Homo sapiens: one gene and its partner. The protein of the gene in region 1 purifies or fractionates together with the protein of each later gene. This does not show direct contact. Each region holds a gene or a part of one and is shown in the gene's direction. Other genes may lie near its edges.

Evidence for each region.
Region 2: the proteins of KIRREL2 (region 1) and UBR3 purify together in Homo sapiens (affinity purification with mass spectrometry; one large-scale study listed by BioGRID and IntAct). This does not show direct contact.

Annotation. Positions count from the first base shown.
Region 1 is NC_000019.10:35,859,870-35,863,522, forward strand, and holds part of KIRREL2 (kin of IRRE-like protein 2 isoform c precursor), read left to right. Parts: intron 1-427; coding exon 428-533; intron 534-649; coding exon 650-798; intron 799-1,039; coding exon 1,040-1,167; intron 1,168-1,252; coding exon 1,253-1,385; intron 1,386-1,671; coding exon 1,672-1,772; intron 1,773-1,935; coding exon 1,936-2,155; intron 2,156-2,623; coding exon 2,624-2,728; intron 2,729-3,045; exon of another isoform or gene 3,046-3,057; coding exon 3,058-3,167; intron 3,168-3,653. UniProt on the Homo sapiens protein: May regulate basal insulin secretion.
Region 2 is NC_000002.12:169,921,443-169,925,095, forward strand, and holds part of UBR3 (E3 ubiquitin-protein ligase UBR3), read left to right. Parts: intron 1-2,486; coding exon 2,487-2,552; intron 2,553-2,641; coding exon 2,642-2,731; intron 2,732-3,653. UniProt on the Homo sapiens protein: E3 ubiquitin-protein ligase which is a component of the N-end rule pathway. Does not bind to proteins bearing specific N-terminal residues that are destabilizing according to the N-end rule, leading to their ubiquitination and subsequent degradation.

The DNA of each region.
Region 1 (3,653 bases):
CCCCGTCTCTACTAAAAATACAAAAATTTGCCGGGCGTGGTAGCACACACTTGTAATTCCAGCTACCTGGGAGGCTGAGGCAGGAGAATCACTTGTACCCGGGAGGCAGATGTTGCGGTGAGCCGAGATCATGCCACTCAGCAGCAGAGTGAGACTCCGAGCAGGAGAGGACAGACAGCTGGGGTCCCTGGGGAAAGAGAAAGCTGGGCCTTGACTCTCACATCGGGGAGACTAGGAGAGGGCAGAAGGCTGGCACATTGAGGTAACTGGGGAAATTGGGAACTGAAAGCCCAGACTCCTGGCTCAAAGGGAGAAGGGGATTAGGGGCCCAGACTCCTGGGATGGAGGAACCAGGGACTGGACACCTAGGCCAGTGACGGAGGTGTTCCTGGTCCTTGCCCATCTGACCATTGTCCCACCCTCACAGACCCCCCAGAGGTGACTCTGTCTGCTTCGCCACACACTGTGCAGGAGGGAGAGAAGGTCATTTTCCTGTGCCAGGCCACAGCCCAGCCTCCTGTCACAGGCTACAGGTGAGGACGAAGACCCACCTCTCCCCAGCCCCAAGAGTGAGCTTGGGAAGGGCTGGGACCTGAGTAGGTGTGCCAGAGAGGCCAGGACAACGTTAACAGCGCCACCATTTCCTCAGGTGGGCAAAAGGGGGCTCTCCGGTGCTCGGGGCCCGCGGGCCAAGGTTAGAGGTCGTGGCAGACGCCTCGTTCCTGACTGAGCCCGTGTCCTGCGAGGTCAGCAACGCCGTGGGTAGCGCCAACCGCAGTACTGCGCTGGATGTGCTGTGTGAGCTGGGGCCGGCCTGTGGGTGTGGTCAAAGGTGGCCGTGGCTTTCAGGGCTGTTGAGGGTCGGGGCCTGGAGGGGCGGGGCCGGGAGAGCGAGCGTGGGGTATTAGGAGGAGGAGAGTGTGGAGCTGGGGCATATTCTTGCGCCCTAGAGGGTGTGGTGTTTCTGTGGGGCTGGCTGATCCCAGGTCAGTGGCTGCATTCCGCCCCGGCCATGTGACCCCTAGTCTCTTTCGTCCAGTTGGGCCGATTCTGCAGGCAAAGCCGGAGCCCGTGTCCGTGGACGTGGGGGAAGACGCTTCCTTCAGCTGCGCCTGGCGCGGGAACCCGCTTCCACGGGTAACCTGGACCCGCCGCGGTGGCGCGCAGGTACAGCCCTAAATCTGAGGCGGTGGCTGGAGGGGGACCAGGCTTCCTTACAAATCCGGCTTCTGACGCCCCTTCCCTGTCGCAGGTGCTGGGCTCTGGAGCCACACTGCGTCTTCCGTCGGTGGGGCCCGAGGACGCAGGCGACTATGTGTGCAGAGCTGAGGCTGGGCTATCGGGCCTGCGGGGCGGCGCCGCGGAGGCTCGGCTGACTGTGAACGGTGAGAAGGCGGGGCTTCCTAGGGGACCTGGCCCGTCCTGGGATAGGGAGCGGACAGAGGGGGCAAGGGCTAATGCAGTGGGAGTGGCCTGGAAGGAGCTTTACACCCAGCGGGGGCTGGAGACCGGACCTATTGAAGGCGAGGCTTTTAGGAGAATCGGAGTTTGGAGGCGGCGTGGCCTGATTGATTGAGGTTAGCGGAGAGTGCGCTGGACAGACCCGGCTTTGTTACAGCCTTTGGGGAGGGCAAGACCTCTCCTCTGAGTGACCTACAGTCTCCATCCCAGCTCCCCCAGTAGTGACCGCCCTGCACTCTGCGCCTGCCTTCCTGAGGGGCCCTGCTCGCCTCCAGTGTCTGGTTTTCGCCTCTCCCGCCCCAGATGCCGTGGTAAGGAAATGTCACTCCTCCCGTGACCCATCCAGCCGTGATCCCTGACCTCCCACCTGGCCCCCCGAAACTACTGTGACCATTTCTGACTTCCCAGACATCCCTCCTGCTTCTTCCTCCCCTCCTCAGTCTCCTCCGTGTCCTCCCTCTTTTGTGCCCCCAGGTCTGGTCTTGGGATGAGGGCTTCCTGGAGGCGGGGTCGCAGGGCCGGTTCCTGGTGGAGACATTCCCTGCCCCAGAGAGCCGCGGGGGACTGGGTCCGGGCCTGATCTCTGTGCTACACATTTCGGGGACCCAGGAGTCTGACTTTAGCAGGAGCTTTAACTGCAGTGCCCGGAACCGGCTGGGCGAGGGAGGTGCCCAGGCCAGCCTGGGCCGTAGAGGTGAGACCCCAGCCCGAAGACCCCAAATCTGGAGAGTCTAAACCCCACAAACGCAGGGATCCCCCAGCCGAGGGCTGCAAAACCTCATACCCTCAAATGCAGAGGAGACCTCCAAACCTCGGGAGTCTCAAAACTGTGGGCTCATTGATTCCCAAGACACCCCTCAACCACAAATGCCTTCACATTCTGAATCCTAAACTGAGAGACTCCTCACACCTAGGGGCCCCAAAAAGGGAAACTCCAATGATTGCAAAGCAAATTGCAAAGTAAAGGACCCCTCAAATTCTAAGACTCCCTAAAGCCAGGGAGTTTAAACTCACTCTCAAACTTGGGGAACCCCAAATTCAAGGGCCTTTGAATCTTCAAATGTGCGACCTTTTGAACCCAGGAATCCCAAACTCAATCCCTGAGCCCCCGCTTCCTGGTTCCCCCTCAGCCTTCTCAGGATGTCCCCTCTGCTCCCTGCAGACTTGCTGCCCACTGTGCGGATAGTGGCCGGAGTGGCCGCTGCCACCACAACTCTCCTTATGGTCATCACTGGGGTGGCCCTCTGCTGCTGGCGCCACAGCAAGGGTTAGTGCCTGAGCCCCGCCCCGGCTCCCGAGGCCCCAGCCCCACACGCGCCCTGCCTGCCCAGTGACCTGACCTGGCCTTGGGCCTTGGCTCCAGTCCCATTTCCAGCTCTGCACAGGGCTTAGCTCTCCTTCACGTTCTGGTTCCCTCCTTAAGCCCTAACTAGGCCTTCCCAGGGTCACACTCCTCGGTGGGAATGATTCTTATTGGTTTCCAACAGCCCTACCCAATCAGCCTCATTGGTTCCCAGTCCTCTCTCTTCCCGCTTATTGGTCTGCACACATTGTGACCCCGCCCATCGCTTAACTCCACCGGTCGCTGTTTGTCAGCCTCAGCCTCTTTCTCCGAGCAAAAGAACCTGATGCGAATCCCTGGCAGCAGCGACGGCTCCAGTTCACGAGGTCCTGAAGAAGAGGAGACAGGCAGCCGCGAGGACCGGGTAGGATGCCAGGGTCCCCAGACCTGACTGTGCCTCCAGACCTAAATAATAGCCCAGTCCCAAGAGGGTCCCCAAATTCAAATAGGACTCTAAGGCCAGGCATGGTGCCTGACGTTGGTAATACCACTTTGGGAGGTGGAGACACAAGGATCACTTAAGGCCAGGAATTCAAAGCCAGCCTGGACAGCATAGCAGGACCCCATCTCTACAAAAATACAAACTAAAATAAAATAAAAAATGAACCGGGTATGGTGGCATACACCTATAGTCCCAGCTACTCAGGACACTGAGGTGGGAGGATCCCTTGAGCACAGGAGGTAAAGGCTGCAGTGAGCTATGATTGCACCATGCACTCCAGCCTGGGCTACAGAGCAAGACCCTGTCTCCATTTTTTTTTTTTTTTTTTATGTAGGAGGGCTCTAGTCTTTTTTTTTTTGGCAGAATTTCACTCTGTCACCCAGGCTGGAGTACAGTGCTGCGATCTCG
Region 2 (3,653 bases), on another chromosome or scaffold:
CTGTGACATTAGACAAGGAAGGAATATGGACTTTAACGTTATGGAGAATGTGAACATAGGATATGCTAAAGCCCTGAAAGATAAAATAGGGTCCATGGCTTACTAGTTAATAGCAATATGTACTGGGTACTGTGCTGTTTTACTTATTTCTCGCAGCTACTAAACTCTTTATTATTCCTACTTTAAGGATCAGACAACTTAGGCACAGAGAGGTAACTTGCCCATAGTTTTACAGCTGGGTGGTAGAACCAGGATTCTGCACTTAGGAAGCAGGCACAGTGGTTCACGCCTTTGGTCCCAGCACTTTGGGAGGCCGAGGCAGGTGGATCACTTGAGGTCAGGTGTTTGAGACCAGCCTGGGCAACATGGTGAAACCCTGTCTCTACTAAAAATACAAAAATTAGCCGGTGTGGTAATACATGCCTGTAGTCCCAGCTACTCAGGAGGCTGAGGCAGGAGAATTGCTTGAACCCGGGAGGCAGAGGTTGCAGTGAGCTGAGATCGCGCCACCGTACTCCAGTCTGGGGGACAGTGCGAGACTCAAAAAAAGGGTCTGCACCTAGGCTGGGCCTGGTGGTTCACGTCTATAATTCCAATCCTTTGGGAGGCTGAGGCGGGCAGATTGCATGAGCCCAGGAGTTCGAGAGCAGTCTGGGCAACATGGCAAAAACCCTGTCTCTACCAAAAACAGAAATTAGCCAGGCATGGTGGTGTGTGTCTGTAGTCCCAGCTGCTCAGGGGGCCGAGGAGGGAGGATGACTTGAGCCCGGGAGGTGGAGGTTGCAGCGAACTGTGATCGTGCCACCATACTCCACCCTGGGCCACAGAGTGAGACCCTGTCTATTTAAAAAAAAAAAAAAAAAAAGAGTCTGCACTTATCCACTGTGCTTAGTGCCTCAAAGGAAATTGAGGGAGATTCTGACTTAGCTAGTTAGTGTAGAATATGTTACTAAGGCGATTATGGTAATGGAGGGCAAACTTTTTAAAATTTTATTTTTAATTGTGGTAAAATACACAGAAAACATAAAATTCACTATCTTAATCATTTTTAAGTGTATAGTTCAGTAGTGTTATGTGTATTTGTATTGTCGTGCAGCCAATCTCCATAACTTTTTTATCTCATAAAATTGAAACTATACTCATTAAATAGCTACTCCCCATTTCCTCTTCCCCCAGCTTCTGGCAACCACCATTCTACTTTGTATCTCTACGAATTTGGCTGCTCTAAGAACCTCATATAGGTGGAATCATATAGTTACTGTCTTTTTGTGACTGGCTTATTTTACTTAGCATAATATCCCGAAGGTTTATTCATGTTACAGAACATTGTTAGACTTTCCTTTCTTTTTATGGAGGGCAAACTTTTATTTATTAGAACAAATTTTTATAGCCTTTACATATTGAAGAGGATATTATTATCTTACTGGTTTTGAAAAAAATAATTATTTCAGGGATGGTGACATATTTAGACTCCTTATAACCTCTATAATGTAAATTATATACATTAGCATAATTATCTGAATGTCCGGGATAAACATTTTTAACAAGAGAATATTTAATAAGAACTTAAAAAGCATTAAAAACAAACAATACCTTTTCAGTTCTTAACTCATTTGTTTAAGAAGGACAGCTGTGGTGTATTTTTGCCCTGTAGTGATTTTGTGATCCATGGGATTCACAGATTTAAAATACAGTTTTTGTAATATTTACAGGAATGCCTAAGGTCATTCACATATTTTTTATGAAGTTTTGTTATGGAGGCTGGTGCGTTTGGTACTGTTTGGAAGCATCTTATCTAACTGGTGAAGGAATCTAACGATGCCCTGCATTTATACCTCTGTTTAGGGATGTGGTCAGAGTCTTCTTACAGTTTTGAATATGACAGTGGAGTCCAGATTAGCTCCCCAGTTCACTACTTTTGAACTTTAGGAAGTTAGTTAAGTTTTCTAAGTTTGAATTTTGCTACTTGTAGAATGAGAATATTAGTAGCTCCTACCCCATAGCATTCTTCTGAGGATTAAATGTGGTAATGTGAATAAAGTGCTTAGCATGGTGACTGGCACATAGGAAGTGTTCAATGAATGTTATATGTGACTGTTATTACTGTCATGATGTTTGGTATACATGCGTTTGAAGAGTCCCAAATGGTCTACTGTAGCTGGAAATCCATTCCATCCCTTGTTTTAATAATAATTATTTGCTTTAGCTGAATTGAATTTAGGAAATATTAATCTGTACTGGATGCTTCAGAGGATTCAAAGTTGAGTAGAATACAATTTCTGCCTTCAAGAAACTTATACTTAAGTGTTTAAAATGGAAAAATTTTATCTATAGTGATTTTGGAATCTGCATCTTCTAAAATGTTAAGTTTTGAACTAAAAGTATAGGAATAAATCCAGGTGAGAGTATGGTTTAAACATTTTACAACCATCTTAAAATTTCTATAAAATAGTCTTTGACTTGTGCATTTTGTTTGTTTATTCCAGCCAGCACCTAACCAAGTCACTTTTCATCTGCCACTACATCGTTACTATGCTATGTTTTTGAGTAAGGTAAGACTGTCATTAAACAATTCTGTTCTTTTTTTTTTAATTTTCAGAAATAAGAATTGAATTAGTAACTTTTTTATTGTAATTTTTAGGCTGTGAAATGTCAAGAACTAGATTTGGATTCTGTTTTACCAGATCAGGAAATGTTAATGAAACTAATGATTCACCCACTCCAAATTCAAGTATGTATTCAGGCATTTAAAAAGTTTTGAAGTGGATTCCTTGTTTAAGTGATTCTTCCTTTATTTATATGCCTTTCATTGTTATTATAGCTGAGATGTTTGAAAACTTTTTTTAAAAAGTTGTTATTGTATTTTTGCTAGATTATGTTTAGGTATTTTTCATTTTATGAGATTTACTTTTTAGTTTTACTTTTTCCAGGAATTCTTTTCATGATATTTGCTTATGGGGTGGTATTTAACATACTATATAGCACTGTTTTGGGAGTCAGGAGATCCAAAAGATTCTAGCCTTGGTGCTACCACTGTTTTATTTTCCGCAAGGTTTAAGGTAATTCACCTCCTTGATTCTCAGTTTCCCTATCTGTATAGTGAGAGGAGAAAGAGGAGAGAAGAATTAGCTTATATAAGCACTGTGATTTCTTTTAATACCAGCAATGTAATTTGACAGGCCAGCTTTTTATATACATTAGAGGGACTTGCACTTCCATTTGTTTTTCCTGGCAATTTTAGATTTGTTAATTATTATAATATTGAACTTGAACTCTGGGTGTTAGGAAACATAAAATTATGACTGCTTGAAGCCAGGTGTGGTGGCTCACGCCTGTAATTCCAGCACTTTGGGAGGCCAAGGCGGGCAGATCACGAGGTCAAGAAATCGAGACCATCCTGGCCAACATGGTGAAACCTTGTCTCTACTGAATATACAAAAATTAGCTGGGCATGGTGGCGTGCACCTGTAGTCCCAGCTACTCGGGAGGCTGAGGCAAGAAGAATTGCTTGAACCTGGGAGACAGAGGTTGCAGTGGGCCAAGATCGCGCCACTGCACTCCAGTCTGGCGACAGAGTGAGATTCTGTTTCAAAAAAAACAAAAAAAATGATGACTGCCTAGTTTTAGTTGACACTGGACATAAATACATGAAG